Linked DNA regions of Homo sapiens: region 1 is linked to region 2. A link means that fine-mapping ties the variant in region 2 to the expression of a gene that starts in the linked region. Tissue or cell type: skeletal muscle. Region 2 holds a variant in brackets; the other region holds the start of a gene. All regions are shown on one strand. Distances are between the middles of the regions.

Region 1 (8,106 bases), 46 kb after region 2:
AGGAATGAACTCAGCAAAAACCAAGGGTCAGCTGCTAGATTGGAGAAGGTGGCTCCTACTGAAGTAATACTATCATGAGGTAGGACAGAGCTACACAGCAGAGCTTTAAGAAATTAGGGTTTTAAACCTAGGTTGTTTTAAAGCTGGGTGGTGACTTGATTATAGGACTCATGGAGAATGGGTGGGATGGTCACAGGTTGGCACTGGGGGCCCAGCCACGTGCCAGCAACAATTGTCAAGGGCATCAACAAGTCTGGTGGTGGCAGGAATGAAAAAGATGGTGGAGTAATAAAAGGAAGGGCAGGAAAGAGCAGGCAAACTTGGGGAAGGTGTCTAACTGGGTGGCAGTAGAGATGTAGGAATAGATTAGTTCAGTGGTTTGAGTCAGTGTGAATGGAGTTCACAGGCAGAGCTTAGATTCCAACCCCAGTTTCCTAACCCTCCTAAAGGCAGTGCCATTTGAGATGGATCCTCTAAACCTTCCTTCCTGCATTCCACCTCCTCTTCTCTATCCGTTACCAACCCTGAGGGCTCCAAAGAAGCAAAACCTTCTTTAGGCAAGCTTTTCATAAACACGGGTTTATAGATTAAAAACAAACACCCTCTCCCATCCCACCCCCTAACCCCAAATATTTGAGTCAACCTCATAAATTATGAAAATGTTACATGTTAAGGCTCCATGTGGGAGCACACTTAGGATTTGGGTCTTTCCAACCAACAGCAAAGTAGTTGGCTACATCTGTTCTCTGAGTCTTTAGTCAAAAATGTAGAGACACTTCAGGGCTGTCTGATGACAAAAGTTCATACTCTTATCACAACTATGTCAAAAGTATGCATGCACATGATGAGCAACACAAGTCCATAGGATTGTGGATAATTTAAAAAACATTTTCTTAATTACAAGTAGATGCTTGTACAATAAATAAAAACTGAGGAGGAACCATCATTTGACTAATAAAGCTTACTTTCCTGGGACAAGGAAGCTTTCAGCCTGGTGCCTGATGCACTAAAAATGTTTGCTGAATTGAAGTATGGAGATGACAAGAAGTTACATATGTTAGAGTAAATAGATTTTTCTAAATGGAACATATTATTTTCTTTCCTCTCCCTCTCAAATTTCGATTCTTTTCTCCTGTCCCATATTTTCCCAGACAGCAAGAGGGCTTAGAGTTTGGAGGAAAGAAAGCAACTTCCAAATATATAATATCTTTTGGTGCCAAGTTAATATTTTCTTATTCAGAGGCCACAAGGTATTGGATAGCAATTATTTGGTGCACCTGAGTTTTCTGTTGTAGTTTGAAAGACACAGAGATAAACCCTAATTCATTACCCACATCAGTGGCTTTGCCGAAATTTGAACCCAGACCCCCTAGGGGACACGGAACACTATGACACATCAGGCTCACTTCTTGCTCTCCTTTTTCAAACCGTGGGGGGTCCATGTGAAAGTCAACTGAATTATTTCATGGGTAAAATCTCTTATTCATTCTTAGGGCATGGAAACCATGTTGTTGAAGAGAGCCGGGATCCCAAACACTTGAAAAAGCACTTCAAAAAAAGGGAAAATCTCTGGACCCATTTGGAGGGTGGAAAGGAACATAAATCACACAGCTTACCAAGAGTTGGCTCACCAATTAACAGCTAAGCAGAGTCCTCTCTATTTTTTCCCCACACCCTCCCTCTCCAGTTGTAGTCAAAGAATCAACCATTCTGGCTTCTAGCAACCTCTTTTCCCAAGTAAAGCCAGTGGCCTATGGCGTGGGGGACAACTGCTCCCTAGCGAATGTCTCTTGCAGTGAAGCATTTCTGAAGTATCTCGATAGAGGATAAAAGAGACAGTGTCTGAGGTCTCAATCCTCAGGCTTCATAAATGTGTAGACACCCTCCAGCCTCCTCAAGGCCCAAATTCTGAGTGACAAATCTATACAGGGGAGGACAGTGTCAGCAAAGTGGCCCAATGAGGCAACTCTTCTTTCTTTCATTTTACCTCTTTGCATAAACTCATTTGAAAAACTCATAGCAGGAAAATAATAACTCTACTGCTGTTTCTGCCCGGCCTCTGTCCCACTGACCCCAAGGTGCTTTCAGATCACCACGAGAAGCTTCTGGGTCTCAATTATGAGACCATTAAAAAGTACCAATTATAAGACCTCAGAAATGTTTCTGGGAAACCTGTTACACACCTCAAAATGGCTAACCTCTTGCCTCAGATTTACTTTAAGTTCAGAAAACAGGTCACCCAGATGTATGGGCATCCTAGCCCCCACAAGCAGCCCAAGACTGTGGTTTAATATTTTCCATGCTGCCCTTAAGAAAACGAAGATTGATTTATTGGCTGTAACCAAAGGGATGAAAAAAACCATCACAGAGCTGGGCTGCCTGTTTAAGACCCAGTCGTGGAATAAATCAGAAATGTCTGCACACTGAAGTTTTAAAATGACATTCATCCAATGGTCAATGTGTACCGAGTTCTGGACAACAAAGAACTAGGTGACAAATGTGTGCTGGGCACAGTGCATCTGCAGGTGGCACAAGGGCCTGAAATCAAAATATAATCTTCACTCAGTCCACTCAAAGAGGTAACTCTGGGTCAAAAACTTAGGCGAACCCATTTGAACTTGCAGAGAAGGGATGAGGGGAGCAGCAGAACACCCCACCACACCCAAAAAGTGCCAGTTTGGGATTGCTGGTGTGTGGTTTCGGTATTCTTAGCTCTACTGCCACATCTCTGGAGGAGCACAACTCTGTTCCAAGCAACTCTGGCACTGCCACCCCCATCCCCAAAACAAAACTCTGCCAAACAAATCCCCGAGGCTCCATTAACTCCTTCAGGTCTGCCTGCCTCTCTCATCCCTCAGCATTCTCCCATCACCTGGAAAAGCAAATTAATACTGAACATCCTGAAAGTCAAGCAGGCCCTTCAACACCCCCATGAAAATTCTTCCTGGGTTCCCTGCCCTCCCCACAGCCCCGTCCCACTGGTTCCAGAGATTCATTTCCCACACCTTCTCACAGTTACATCAACAAAAACCCCAGGAGGACGCTGCTGGCGCGAACACGCACACACGCGCGCGCACACACGTACACGCACACACGAACTCTCTCTCTCACACACACACACACCTCTTTCACCTTTGCCCCAGCCCCTCAGACACCTCGGGCCACTCGGCTTCAGCCTCGCCCCTCTGCGCCAACAGCTAGGGATGCTTCCCTCAAGCTGCGTCGCTCCCGGTCCGCTGAGTTCCTCATTTTAGTGTTTTTCCTTTAGAAGACGCCAACTATGAGAAACCCTCACCCTCCAAAGAGGCCGAGTGCGTGTTGAGTGACTCTACGCATTTGCCGCCACGCCTCGGGTTCCCCCCACGGCCTGGAGCATGGGGCCGGGGCGCTGGTGTCAACCTTCGGTGGAAGTTTGGGAGGCTGGCTGGATCCTTCTTCCACCCGAGAAGCTTCTGGGAACCGCTGAGGCGAAACCACCATCGCCCGGCCAGACCGCTGCGGCAGGGAACGAGATGCGGCGCCCCTGGGCCCCGTAGCGGCTGCAGCCCCCGGGACCCCCGCTGCCCGCCTCGCCCCAACTTCTTCGCCCGGCGCCCGGCGCGCCCAGCCTCGGCCGCAGCTCCCAGCCCCGGGCGCCCGGCCGAGCGCTGGGACCCGGCTCCCGCCGCCGGCACGTCCCCCGGCAGCCACTCGCTGGCGCTGCCTCGGCCTGCGGCCGCCTCCCGCCCCCTCCTCTCCCCGAACCAACAGTAAACACAACTTTTTATGAAAAGAAAACAAACTTCAGCGACGTGACTCACCTCTGCTGCAGCCGGCGCCTGGGAAGGGCGAGCCGGGGCCCGGGGGCCAGCGTGGTGGGCGCGAGGGAGCCACACAGCGCCGCGCCGCACGGACACACAACACGCTCGGTGACACCGGGGACACACAACACGGGCGAGCGGCCGCGGCTGGAGCAACAAAGGAGCCGAGGACCGAGAAGTTGCGGGCCGGAGAGGGAGGGCGCGTGCGGGCGTGTTGTGGCTGTGGCGGGCGTGAGGGTGTGCGCGCCGTGTGTGCGCGTGTGTGTCTTTTCTGTGTGTGTTTGTGTGTCTCTGTGTGTGTGTCTGTGCGCGCGCGCGGCGGCTGACACCGGCGGGCCGGGGCTCAGGGTCCCCGCGGCAGAAAGCGGCGGCCGCGGGGGCGGCAGCAGGAGGACAACGCAGGGGACGCCGCGCCCAGCGCACCCGGTCCCTCCATATGGAAGAAGCTTTTTGGATGACTGAACTCGCAAACAATTCCTTCTTTTGCTTCTCCTGCCTAGGAGCCTCCCATTACCGTGCGAGGAGGAGGAGGAGGAGGGAGTGGAGGAGGCTGGGAGGAGGGGGAGGAGCAAAATGGAGCAAAGAAAAAGTCTTGGAAAGGAAGCTGGAAAAAGTCCCCCAAACTCTAGGGCAGTTTTCCCGTTAACACCCACTTTTTGCTGTGCCTCAGACCCGCGCTCTCCTCCAACTTCTTTTGCTTTCCCATACCAAAAGCACCATCTTCTCCCTTTTCCCCGAACCCAGGGGGCTCCCCTGAAGCCTTCACTTTCTCTTTAGCTTCACCTCGCACCCTTGCTCTTCCATGTACAATCCTTCCCTCCTTTCGCCTAGTCTCTTCCAAGACTTTCCTGACACCCACCTCTCAATGGTCTTCTTCTTCTGCAAGACAAACTGTTGGATAAATCATTAAAAGCAAACTCATCAGAAAATGGGACAGCGGCGGTGGAGAAAATGATAAGGAAACCAATCTCAGGGAAGCCTTAACGCAGCCTCCCCCGACCCCCTCGGTCGGTTGGGGAGGGTTTGCCGCGTCGTCCATTGACAGCGCCCTGACCTCCATTCATCATCCCAGGATGGAGCCAGGGAGGAATGGGGAGGGAGAGCTGGGGCTGGGGTTGGGGGCATGGGTTGGGGGTGCTAGTGGCCACGGAAAAGTTAGTTACCTATGCGTGTGTATGTGTACGCGCACGCGCGCGTGTGTGTTGGTCAGAAAACTTTCAGAGCTGTGGTTCTCAAACTTGATCTGCAGCAGGACTCCCTGGAAGGCTTGCTAAATCCCTTTGCTGGGCCCCACCTCCAGAGTTTCTGATTCAGTAGGTGGACCTGGGAATTTGCATTTCAAATAGGTTCCCAGGTGATGCTGATGCTGCAGGTCAGGGGCCACGTTTTAAAAACTACCTTTCCAGGGCAGTGAGAAGGCAAATGTTGAGTTGGTGGCAAATTGGATTCCCTTCTTATTTTTTAGGAATGAAGCACAGGTTGTGAGCGGTCATCCATTCCGTATCTTCATTGCAGCTGAGAAAACCAAGTCCCAGCAGGGCTAAGCCATTTGTTTAAAGTGAACTGGGAGTTTGTGCCAAGCTGGTGAGGAAGCTGTCCTGGAAATAAGACAGCCAGGCTAGTAGTAGGGTGAATGGGGGTGCTGCCTTCCCTGTGTGGCTGGACAGCTGCACTGGGAGTCAGGAAGCCACTGTGACTTTGGAAAGTCACTTAACTTTTCTGGGCCTCTGGGGGTTTTGTGTGTGTGTGTGTGTGTGTGTGTGTGTGTGTGTGTGTGTGTGTGTGTGTTTGTTTGTTTGTTTGTTTTTTGACAGAGTCTCACTCTGTCGCCCAGGCTAGAGTGTAGTGGTGCAATCTCGGCTCACTGCAAAGTCTGCCTCCTGAATTCGAGAGATTCTCCAGTGTCAGCCTCCCAAGCAGCTGGGATTACAAGCACCTGCCACCATGCGCGGCTAATTTTTGTATTTTTAGTAGAGACGGAGTTTCACCATGTTGTCCAGGCTGGTCTTGAACACCTAGCCTCAAGTGATCTGCCCACCTTGGCCTCCCAAAGTGCTAAAATTACAGGCGTGAGCCACCTCACCCGGCCCTGTTTTGTTTTTTATTAACTTGTTTCTTGTCAGTAAACATACATACTTTACACTGAGTATAGGACTCTAATTGAATCTGAACCAAAAGACCTTTACAAAGGAAACATAAATGTATTTTATTCCATATTTTGCACTATTTTTTCTCCGGTATTTAGTCATTCAGGCAGAAGCCAATTTCCTTTTTGATTTATCGAGTACTTTCAGCTCTGTGCCTGGATTCTTAGGCATGTTCCTCTGGCAAAATGGATCTGGAGGATGATGCATTTTCAGCAAGAAGGTGAAAAGGACTCTGAACTCTCTCTGTGCATTATCCACCTACATTTCCTTTTCCTACTTAATCATCCTAATTTTCCTTCCCTTTTAATCTCTAACAATCTCCCCCAACATTCTCAAAGACCTATTTTTCTTTCCAGTCATTGACTATATTAGCTTCCACTTTCTTTTGTCCTCCTTCCAAGGCACAATTCTGGACTACAAGGCCTGGGGTCCACCCTGGGTACAGAACTTTTAATTCCCCCAAGGGAATGGGTCAACCAGCTTCCTCTGCAGTGATAACACTCCTTCTCCCCAGGGACCCAAGCAGCGTATCCAGCCTTCTGTTTTTCAAAGATGATTCCAAGTACCGCTCAATGAGAACGTGATGCATGAAGGTCTCAGATTCATTCTTTTATATTCCTGTATATACTATTCGTTGCTTGACATCTCAAAGATATCTTCTACCCCTTCTGTCATCTTTCTCCTAGGACTCTCCATTCTCTTACTCTGGTCTTTGGGTCCACACAGCCCTAGGCTCTGAGTTAAGCATCAGAACACAACAGAACACAAAGAATGTAACAGTCCCTACCAGCACCATTTAGTCAGGAGAATGACACACTGCCTTGTTCCTTCATGCATGCAGGCTGCTCACCTTTCTTTCTTTCCTTTTTTTTTTAAGATGGAGTCTGGCTCTCTCACCCAGGCTGGAGTGCGGTGGCATGATCTCAGCTCACTGCAACCTCCACCTCCCCGATTCAAGCGATTCTCCCTGCCTCAGCCTCCCGTGTAGCTGGGATTACAGGTGCCTGCCACCACGCCAGGCTAATTTTTTTTTTTTAAGTAGAGACGGGGTTTCACCATGTTGGACAGGCTGGTCTCGAACTCCTGACCTCAGGTGATCAGCCCGCCTCAGCCTCCCAAAGTGCTGGGGTTACAGGCATGAGCCACTGCTCCCGGCCTGCTGCTCACCTTTCTTATAGTTTAGGCAGAATGCAGATCACAGCTTAATAAAGAGGACTTAATTCTGCTGGCGGCATCAAGCACACTGTTGGTACCTCAGATATGTTTATTGTTTTTATTGCTCTTTGTATTAATGTGATTGTGTTTATTACTACTAGTCCTGTAAGAACAACGTATCTGAATTTTCTCCCCACTCCATTTTGCCTGGAGGGTATTTCTTGCCTAATTCCCTCCTCCCCTTTCAATTAGTTTCTCTATCTTAACCCACCCCAACCCATTCCAGCATCTCTAGCCATTTCAAAACAGTTAGGTGGAGTCTGGATCTTGTAAGGTGCTTTTTGCTACTGTCCGTTCTGTTGATGGTGATTTACCTCTAGCACCTTGCTTTCTTGGAAATGTTATGGGCCTCCACCAAGAAGGAAGCATTTGGTATGGAAGTGATCATCACATTAATTTAAATGCTTGGTCGGGGGAAGGAGTGGGGAGGTGAGTAGGGATTGTAGGTCTATATAAGTCACTATGTTGCTAGGCTGTGCAGAATAAACTGGAAGGAATTCAGTGAATGACATGAAAAGACGTGGTTTCCTCTCAGTGTGCTGTAGATACTCTACCTGTATCATATAAACAGGGATCTCTTTGACTGTGAAAGATATCTGGAGAGGATTATGCTGAGAAAATTATTAAGATGTAGACAAGAAAGAAGGACTTGATGATGTTTTCCTCTGTTTTAATATAAATCTGCTTTCCTGATTATAAAATATGTGCACTGACAAAAATTTAGAAAATGTAGAAAAACACATAAAAGAAGAAAATCAACTTAAAGTTACTACCCAGGGATAACATTGTTATTAACATAGTGGAGTGTTTTTTCTAGTCATTTTTCTTTCTTGTTTTTGTTTCTCATCAATACAAATAAACACGTTATCGACACTGAGTATATGATTCTAATTGAATCAGAATTGAAAGACATTTAAAGGGAAACATAATTGGGGTGAGTTTAT
Region 2 (8,106 bases):
CGTAGTCCTCACCACCTCCACCAGCACTCCAGCCTAAGTCAACACTGTAATCTACAGAGACACTTAGAAACACAGTTGGCAGAGTGAGTACTGCTCCTCCCTTTGCAGGCAGGGAGACTGGATAAATATGTTTGCTGTCTTTGGGATTTTTTTCTGCCTGTCCAATTGCACAAATAATTTTGGCTCCCAAGCTCTCTCCTGACAACCATGGAAACATGACATGAAATTTCTCAAACACACTTTCTGATGAAAGCAAGGCATGCTCTTTTTTATTTAAAGAAAACAGTTTCCATGGGGAGGAAGAAGAAGAATTAAAAAAAAAAACAAACCTTTGTAGATGCCAAGCACATTAGTTGTTAAATCTTGTTTCTTTCTTTTCCTTTCAGTTGAGGTGGGATTTACACCCAGATTTGAGCAGTGGAAGAAAGCTGGGATTGGGGAAGAGATGAAAGAGACTGGGGGATGAGGGCTGAAAATCAAAGTCAAGACAGGAGAGAGAAATCTGGGGGTGGGCAGGAGGGGAAAGCAGGCCAGAAGGGAGGAGTGGGAGAGGAAGAAGGAGAGAGACTAAAAAGAACCTATTTTGCAATGTCATTAAATGATTTGCAATGAATTGGCCTGAGGCTTCAGGAATTTCTTGGCTTGAACCAATTAAAAATACTTCATTTTTAAAAAAGACATAAGAGAACGAGAAATGCGATTAATCCTCAAAGACAAGTCAAGGATGGAGCCATGTCTCCACTGGGTCTGGCAGCCAGATGAACACAGATGTCTGGTCTGTAGACCATCTCATCTACCCGACTTCAGGGCCGCTCTGAGGTAGGGCTGGTTAGCAGAACTGGGGAGTTTCTTTTGGACTAGATGAAGGAATGAAATAGTTAGAAAAAAAATATACTGAAGAAAGAGCAGAAGGAAAAAAAGATTTACTTGCCAGCAACCCACATCACACATATTTCTCTGATCAACCAAATACAAACTATAAACTTAGCAGTGGGAAAATTAATGTGAGTCCTGGTGGTCTGGACTCATCAGAGCCAGAGCTGGATCCTGGCACAGGCTTTGGAAGGGCTGGCAGCCTGTGCAAGAAGAGAGGGAGGAGAGAAAGCGGAGGCTGAGGAGCTGAGAGAAAGAATGGGGATGAGCACTTTGGTGTGGCTGTGATGAACAGAACTCCAGGTGGGAGAGACGGGGCAGTGGGGCCTGCTTTTTCTTCCCACACACCTGGAAACTGCATACTCCCATCAGCCTCGGTGGCACCAATCCCATCCACCCACTCCAAAATGCCCCTTGAGGTATATGTGAGGACAGTGGTCCCCAACCTTTTTGGCATCAGGGACGGGTTTCATGGAAGACAATTTTTCCATGGACCATGGGTGGGGAGACTGGGGGGGATGGTTTTGGGATAAAACTGTTCCACCTCAAATCAATAGACATTAGTTAGATTCTCATAAGGGGCGCACAACCTCCTAAATCCCTCGCATGCACAGTTCACAGTAGGGTTCACCCTCTAATGGTGAACCCTATTCTATTGAATGGTGAAAACCTGTTCTGTTCTGTTCTGTTCTGTTCTGTTCTTTCTGTTCTGTTCTGTTCTGTTCTGTTCTGTTCTGTTCTGTTCTGTTCTGTTCTATTCTATTCTAATAGAATCTAATGCCACTGCTGATCTGACAGGAGGTGGTGTTCAGATGGTAATGCTTGCTGGTCCACCGCTCACCTCCTGCTGTGTGACCCTGTTCCTAACAGGCCATGCACCACCATGGAACGGTACTGGTCTGCTGCCTGGGGGTTGGGGACCCCTGTGTTAGGTCATGGAGCCAAATTCACTGGCATCTCCCTGAGGTTCCAGAATTTCCTCCAAACATCTCAGTTTCTTTCCAATGTTGTTTTATGCTTCTGACATTCATCAATTTTTCTAAGTCTTTCTTGAATCCATTTGTATCTTCAACCTCTTTGTATCCTGAGTCCCTGCTTTATCCTTTCTTATATACTTCTTGAAAACTTTAAATATATCAGAATTTGAAAAGGAAATTCAGAAATTGTTAATTTACCCTGTGTATGCCCTTTTTCATCTTCTAGACCTCAAACATGTTTTATCTGGGAGTCTTCCTCTTTCATGACATTCACAGAAGGCCTATGGTGTGCCAGGCCCCGTGGACAGCACTGTGGACACAGATGCATAATAACAGTTCCTACCCTCCAGATAGAGAGGCAAGAAAGGGCTGTGGAAGCAAACCCAAGGTACTAAGGAAGCCGGGAAGAGAACCTACTCTAGACTTGGAAGTTGAAGGGGTCAAGAAACATTCCTAGAGAAGATACCTGAGTCTTGAAAACTGAGAAGGAATTAGTAACCCAACAGAGGTGGGAACTTTCTGAGGACGGAGATGGAGAGGAAGATGCTGCCAGCTGAGGGACCACCATTCTGAAAGCTAGGAGAAAGTGCGCGATGGAAAGTGGGCCTGAGGGAAAGGCTGTAAGCACCTCACTATTAATCACAATTCTCCCTATAGGAAAATAAATGCTGTTTCTACTTCAGCAAGTTTTTTTCCTTTTGTTTACATTTTTTCTCATTATGAAGTGATCATCCTTTAATTTGGATGTGAACACTACGTCTATTTGCAGGACAGACTCACTGTTCTATAGAGCTCAAGATTATTACCAGACTCCAAAAATGGCTGAAAGTCTAAAAACAAAGTCAAAGTAGAAATTGCTCAACTTTTCCACACACACACGAGAAACAGGGGATGCTGAGGTGTGAAGCTGTTTTTAAAAAATGAGGGAACCAAGGACTCATTTGCTCTCTTGGTTTTCTTTTTTGTTCTAAAGAAAGCATCTTGCACCATGCTCCTTAAAGGAGTCCAGTGATTTCAAGCCGGCAAATCAATCTTTCCCTTGGCTTCTGGTGCAAAAGGCTCCTCAAACTGTGTTTTGGCTCACTGAATCAACATACTACACAGCCCTTCCCTTTTCTCTTAGCTTAGAAAATGAACCCAGTATTGTATTTAAGCATTTGGCTGTGAGTGCAAAGAATGAATTGAGGACAAGGGTGGAGTGGGTTAAGAGTCCTTAAGGGTGTCCTTGGTAGAAGATGCACTATGAACCTGAGGTCTGTTTGGTAAATAGTGACCTCTGATAAATATAGAATGGGACTCCTGGCTGTTTGGGGCAGACATTTGCTGCCAAGATGCTCTGAGCAGAACTTACACCACGGATCTGTCTGGGTACTTGCACCAGGGCTAATAGGACTAGTGTAGCCAATGCCATTTGAAGATTTCACCAGAATATCAGGGATAATTCTAGTGAGCTATTAATTTCTGCCTGCATCCAGTAGAAAACAGAAAGCGTTGATGTAACTTTGTCCTAAAGCTATAAGGTATTCCTTATTCATTTCCTATTAAGATGCTCAAGTTGCTCAGGCACCTTTTAGATCTCAGCCATCTTTCAATAATTTTCTTGCCCAAGTGTCAAAGTAAAATACACATAACTTATGGTATGGAACAACTAAATTTCAAGCTGGCTCTCCTTTTCCAACTCCATTCCCCTGTGTGGAGCTGTCTCTGTCTCTCCCAGCCAAAGCAGGCTCACACTCTGCCCCAGC[T/G]GCAAATCTCCTTCCCCTCCTGGGGCAGCTTAGGAAGCCACCTGTGTTTTCTTTCCCTACAACCCTTCTCACTGCCATCCCTTCATCCCAAAGCAAAAAGCTTGTACAGGATTCCCTGATGCCCAAGCCAACACATAAATGTTTTTCCAATTTGGAGCGAATGGCTCCTCCTGTTTTGTCAGGGAGTCACTGGCTAACTGAACCAGACGGGGGCGGAAGTGGGGAGTACTGGAAAAAACACTCTAAGTTTCTTTCTTAATCAGAAAATGTTCATACCCAAAGAGAAAAGAGATGAGAAACAGTTAAGAAATGGGGTGAGCGGGGAACAGGATGGAGAGAGAGAGACAATCACCTGGTGGCTAGATTAAGAATTCGATTGAGCTCACCATGGAAATATCTCACTATGGAAATAAAACTTTCTATGGCAGTATCGGTGCCATCCGAGAAACTGAACTGGGCCTAGGTCTGAATACACAATGTTAAGAGCTGAATTTGGTTTTTAAAGGTCTGAGAAAGGTATGTGAGGACTCAGAAATTAAAAATCAAGGTTGTCTTGTACACATTCTTCAAGGCTCAACTGCTGAGTCTTCCGCAATCCCCTGAAATGGAAATGAATCCTTGCTAGCCTCCGAGCTCCCATTAAAATCTGTTCACATTTCTGGCGGGCAACTCATGGGGCTGGCTTGCTTTATGACTAATGTGTTAACAAAGTCCACCTTCTCCATTAGACTGAGAGATGTTCAATGGCCAGGACCAGATCTTACTGTGCTCTGTTAGAAATTCTAAATGTTCCCAATTCTTAGGGCACCAACCTCCAAAACATCCAAATATAGGAGTCAGCACTGGAGAATGAGTGCTTTGCTGTTTTTCAAGTGGGACTCATGAATTTTGGTCTTGCCTTATTTAATAGAAGCCTTTAGAAATAGAATGCATTAAGTTGTAAGGTATTGAGGACAAAATTAAATTAAAGAGGTAGATTGTTAATTGTAGTAAGAAAATATATTCTGGGAAGAAAATTATAATGACTGTTGGAAATGAAAGATAAATTATTTTATTAATTGAGTTCTTGCTTGCTTGTTTCTTCTCTCATCCTCTCCACCCCTACACTTCACAGAGGAGTTGAGAAAAAAAAATCTTGAGAAAAAATCAAGACATAGGTTTTATATATATATTTAAAAATCAAGACTAGGGGAAAATTAGGAAAGGATAGTCTTAATAAGATAGCCCAAATTAAACCACAATTTTGCTCTGAGACACCTGTGGCCAAAGAGAATCCAAACAATATGCCTCTGCCAAGGTGAGAGGACTTCATGAAGCTGTTTCTGCAACCAGTGAATGCATCTCTGGTAGGGGCTGGGGCAACAGGGTCTCTGTGTCTGCATCTTCCAATGGTCAGCTCCACCCAAGGTTGAAATCCAAAGCATCCAGAGGTTTGAATGGAGCTCATGGCTCCATAAAGGTTAAGGAATAACCATTGTCCTGGCAGCGTGGAAACATCTCCGTCTAAAGGTGCCATTAATGATTCTGGGAGCTGGACTTAGGGAGAATCTAATTTCTTCACATTGTCTCCAAAGAGACATATTCCAAAAGAACTCCAGGCAGGTGGTGTATTTCAGGTGGACAGTAGGGGACTGTGATGGTTAATTTCATGTGTCAACTTTGCTAGACAATCTTTTACTTTGAGAAAATAATTACCCTCCCTAGTGGGGATAGGCCTCATTTGATCATTGAGGGTATTAATAGCAAAGACATGTTTTCCAGAGAAGAACACAACACAGAAAATATGCCTGAGTTTCCTGCTTTTACCCTAAGACTGCAATATCAATTCTTACCTGAATCTACAGCCTGCATGAGCTAACTCTTTAAAATAAATCTTTGTATAATATATAATTATACATATACAAAATTAAATATATTATACATATATATATACACACACACACACATATATGTATTATTGGTTCTGCTTCTCTGGAGAACCCTAATACAGAGATAAAGGAAGCTAGAAATATTTTAAGAAAGAAATCGCTACAATGGTCCTTAATGGACTATGGACTATTCTAGTTCACAGTCAGAACCTAGGTGACCTTAGTGAAGTGTGTGATGGGAATTAGCGGTTAGGGGAGCTGAGCAAAGAGACATAGCTTCTGTTTGTAAGATTCACCATGCTGAAGGCCAGGGTCAGCCCAGCCTGTCAGTGCAAAACAACAGCTGTCTGTATACGGCAGCAGTTGAGTGGGCAGCAGTGAACCCACAGGAGCATCAGTGAGCAGCTCTGCGGGCTACACTGACAATGCACCATGACACCGTGGCTGCTCCTGAAGGCGGCTGGGGTGGGAATCTGAGTTAGAGAGCACATGTATATAAGGAACTAAGAAAGTCACAGGAATGGGTTAGTTCTCTCTTTATAAGAAGCCAGCCCTCTATTGGTTCTGGTTATGACTGGAAGCTCTGCCACCCTCTGGACTGTCTTCCTAAGGGTCACTCCCAGAATGGAACTGGGCAGTACAGGGCTGGACACGGGCTTTAGAGCCTCCAGAAAGGAGACACTCCAGAAATGTTTGACAACCACATGGGCGAACAAATAAAGCCTGGGATTTCTAAAATGCTCTCAAATACTAATATTATACATTCTCCCATTTATCCTCAAAAAACCCATGAGACTGGTGATGTAATTACTGTGTTCATTTCACAGCTGTGGCAGTCAGTCTAAAGACCAAGTGATTTGCTCAAAGTCATGGAACACTTAAATGGCAGAGCTAAGGCTTAAACCCAGAATTTAAAAATTTTTTTTAGCTTCTTGTTTTTTCCATTATACCAGTTTGGCCCTTCATTTTATTCATGGGTTAAATTAAATTATGGTAACAAAGGGCCCCTGGTCACTTTGGACATTTTCTCAAAGTCAGAGATTCATGAGGTTGAGTGGCGAGGGGGACTCCTTCCTTTCTTGTCAGCCACCTTGCCTGCTGATCTCTGATGCCAGAGACAGGACCATTCAGGAGTATATGCCTGGCCTTGGCGCTAGGAGGCCTTAAGGAGCGGTGACCGATCTGTTCTCAATTATACCGGCTGCAGCTTAAGACTTCACATTAACTTGAGGACTAAAATTCCCAAGTTTAGAATTATAGGTAGCTACCTGGTTACCACCTGTTTTATTTCCAGCTACCAGTGGGACCTAGGGATGATGGGAGAATTGGGAGAATAAAATTATCAAAAAATCTTAAAAGTTAAAAATAAACAATTATTAATGGTTGACTGTTAGAGGTAAGGGATTGAGAACAGCTTTTCCACTGCCAGCTCTGATGAGTCGGTTGTGACTCCTTGCCATACTGTGTTGAGAACAGGCCTGAGGTGGAACTCAGGGTCCAGTAAGAAGGAGTGGAGTGCTCCCTGGCAGGGTCTGCTGTTGGTTCAGGAGCAGACTGGGAACAGCTGAGCTGTGTAGAGCGGTTGGCTGCCTGGTGTGAGGCTTGTGAAAAGGGAAAGGGAAGTGAAAGGAAGGAGTTCAAAGTTAAAAGCATTTCAAAAACCAAGAATTAGACAAGATGATCTGAAGCAGGGCATTGGCAGCAAGAAAGTTTTTCTTTTTTTTTTAAAGTTTAGGTTAAATAGGAAATAAAAAACTCTTCAGAGGACAGCGAGATGGGCACCTCCACAGAGCATGCAGCAGCCATTACCCACATGGCCAGGACAACCTGGGGTGGAGGGAGGGAGAGAGTGCAGGTGAGACTCTTCAGTTGATTTGACCTCTGGCTCCATTTTACCGAAAATCAAAAGATGATGTCACCTGGTCAGGGTGAAGTACAAGTGGACCCTCCAGCTTCCAACACTGGACCAGAAAATTATTCTGCTAGAGGCCTCCCCTCCACCCCTGAATCCTCAAGCCTGGTCCTAAGCCCCATGACCTATAGCCCCATGACCCTTCTAAAGGGTGGATGCAGGAGGTGGCATCTTGCCAGGTAGGCCAGACAGCAACTGCTTTGTGCGAGGATGAACATGGGACAGCGTGGAGAAGAGGCCAGAGGAAAAGGAAGCCTACCATGCTGAGTGTGTGTGGGTGTGCATGCGTGTGCACCGGCACGCCGCTGCCCAGTCTTTCCTCTAAATGCAGACCGTGCCTTCGGTAATCCCGTCTACCACTTGGCCTCCCTCATACATCAGCCAACCAGCAAAACACAGCCCCTATTCTGCTCAGGAATGTGCTTTCAGAAACTTAATCTACTGCTGCGTCTGGGCCAGATCCCCTAATGGCATTAACCCAAAGACAGCACCCCTTTCACTTGCCCCCACCCACCTTCCCGCCACCTCGTTGCTGCCTCCTCCAAGCTTTGCAGTTCCACTCCACCAACTCCCTCTTTTTCATGACACAGCCCCCCATGCCTGCTCTCTCAACTTTCAGCACTTCTTCTTTCTAGTCAGGCCCAAACATTTTGCCTTCTGATTCATGTCTAAATGACAAGCCAATAGTTCTTGGCTTTCAAATAAGCCCAGCTCGGCTTCTGCACAAGCCC

Which allele goes with the higher level. Alleles are on the strand shown, and positions count from the first base shown. SD is a standard deviation of normalised expression in the study named.
For the expression in skeletal muscle of the gene that starts at base 4,260 in region 1, allele G in region 2 goes with a lower level than allele T (moderate effect, 0.54 SD a copy in FUSION).

What was found. PIP is the estimated chance that this variant, and not a neighbour inherited with it, causes the effect.
Region 1: it holds the start of BOC, and the variant in region 2 is fine-mapped to the expression of BOC in skeletal muscle (FUSION, PIP 0.95).

The regions. Positions count from the first base shown.
Region 1 is chr3:113,207,711-113,215,816 of GRCh38, reverse strand. It overlaps BOC (BOC cell adhesion associated, oncogene regulated), which reads right to left and starts at 4,260. Exons shown (of 20, transcript NM_001378074.1): 1 at 3,801-4,260. LOC124909486 reads left to right here and starts at 187. Exons shown (of 2, transcript XM_047449436.1): 1 at 187-285; 2 at 3,537-8,106. The coding sequence starts at 187. The coding sequence ends at 4,262. RefSeq lists an enhancer at 3,248-3,899.
Region 2 is chr3:113,254,191-113,262,296 of GRCh38, reverse strand. The region is part of intron 4 of BOC (BOC cell adhesion associated, oncogene regulated); the gene reads right to left. LOC124909409 (a long non-coding RNA gene) reads left to right here. Exons shown (of 2, transcript XR_007096006.1): 2 at 1-2,532. Among named protein-coding and RNA genes, the nearest start is that of BOC, 47 kb to the right of the region's middle. The variant T/G (reference allele first, on the strand shown) is at 3,596.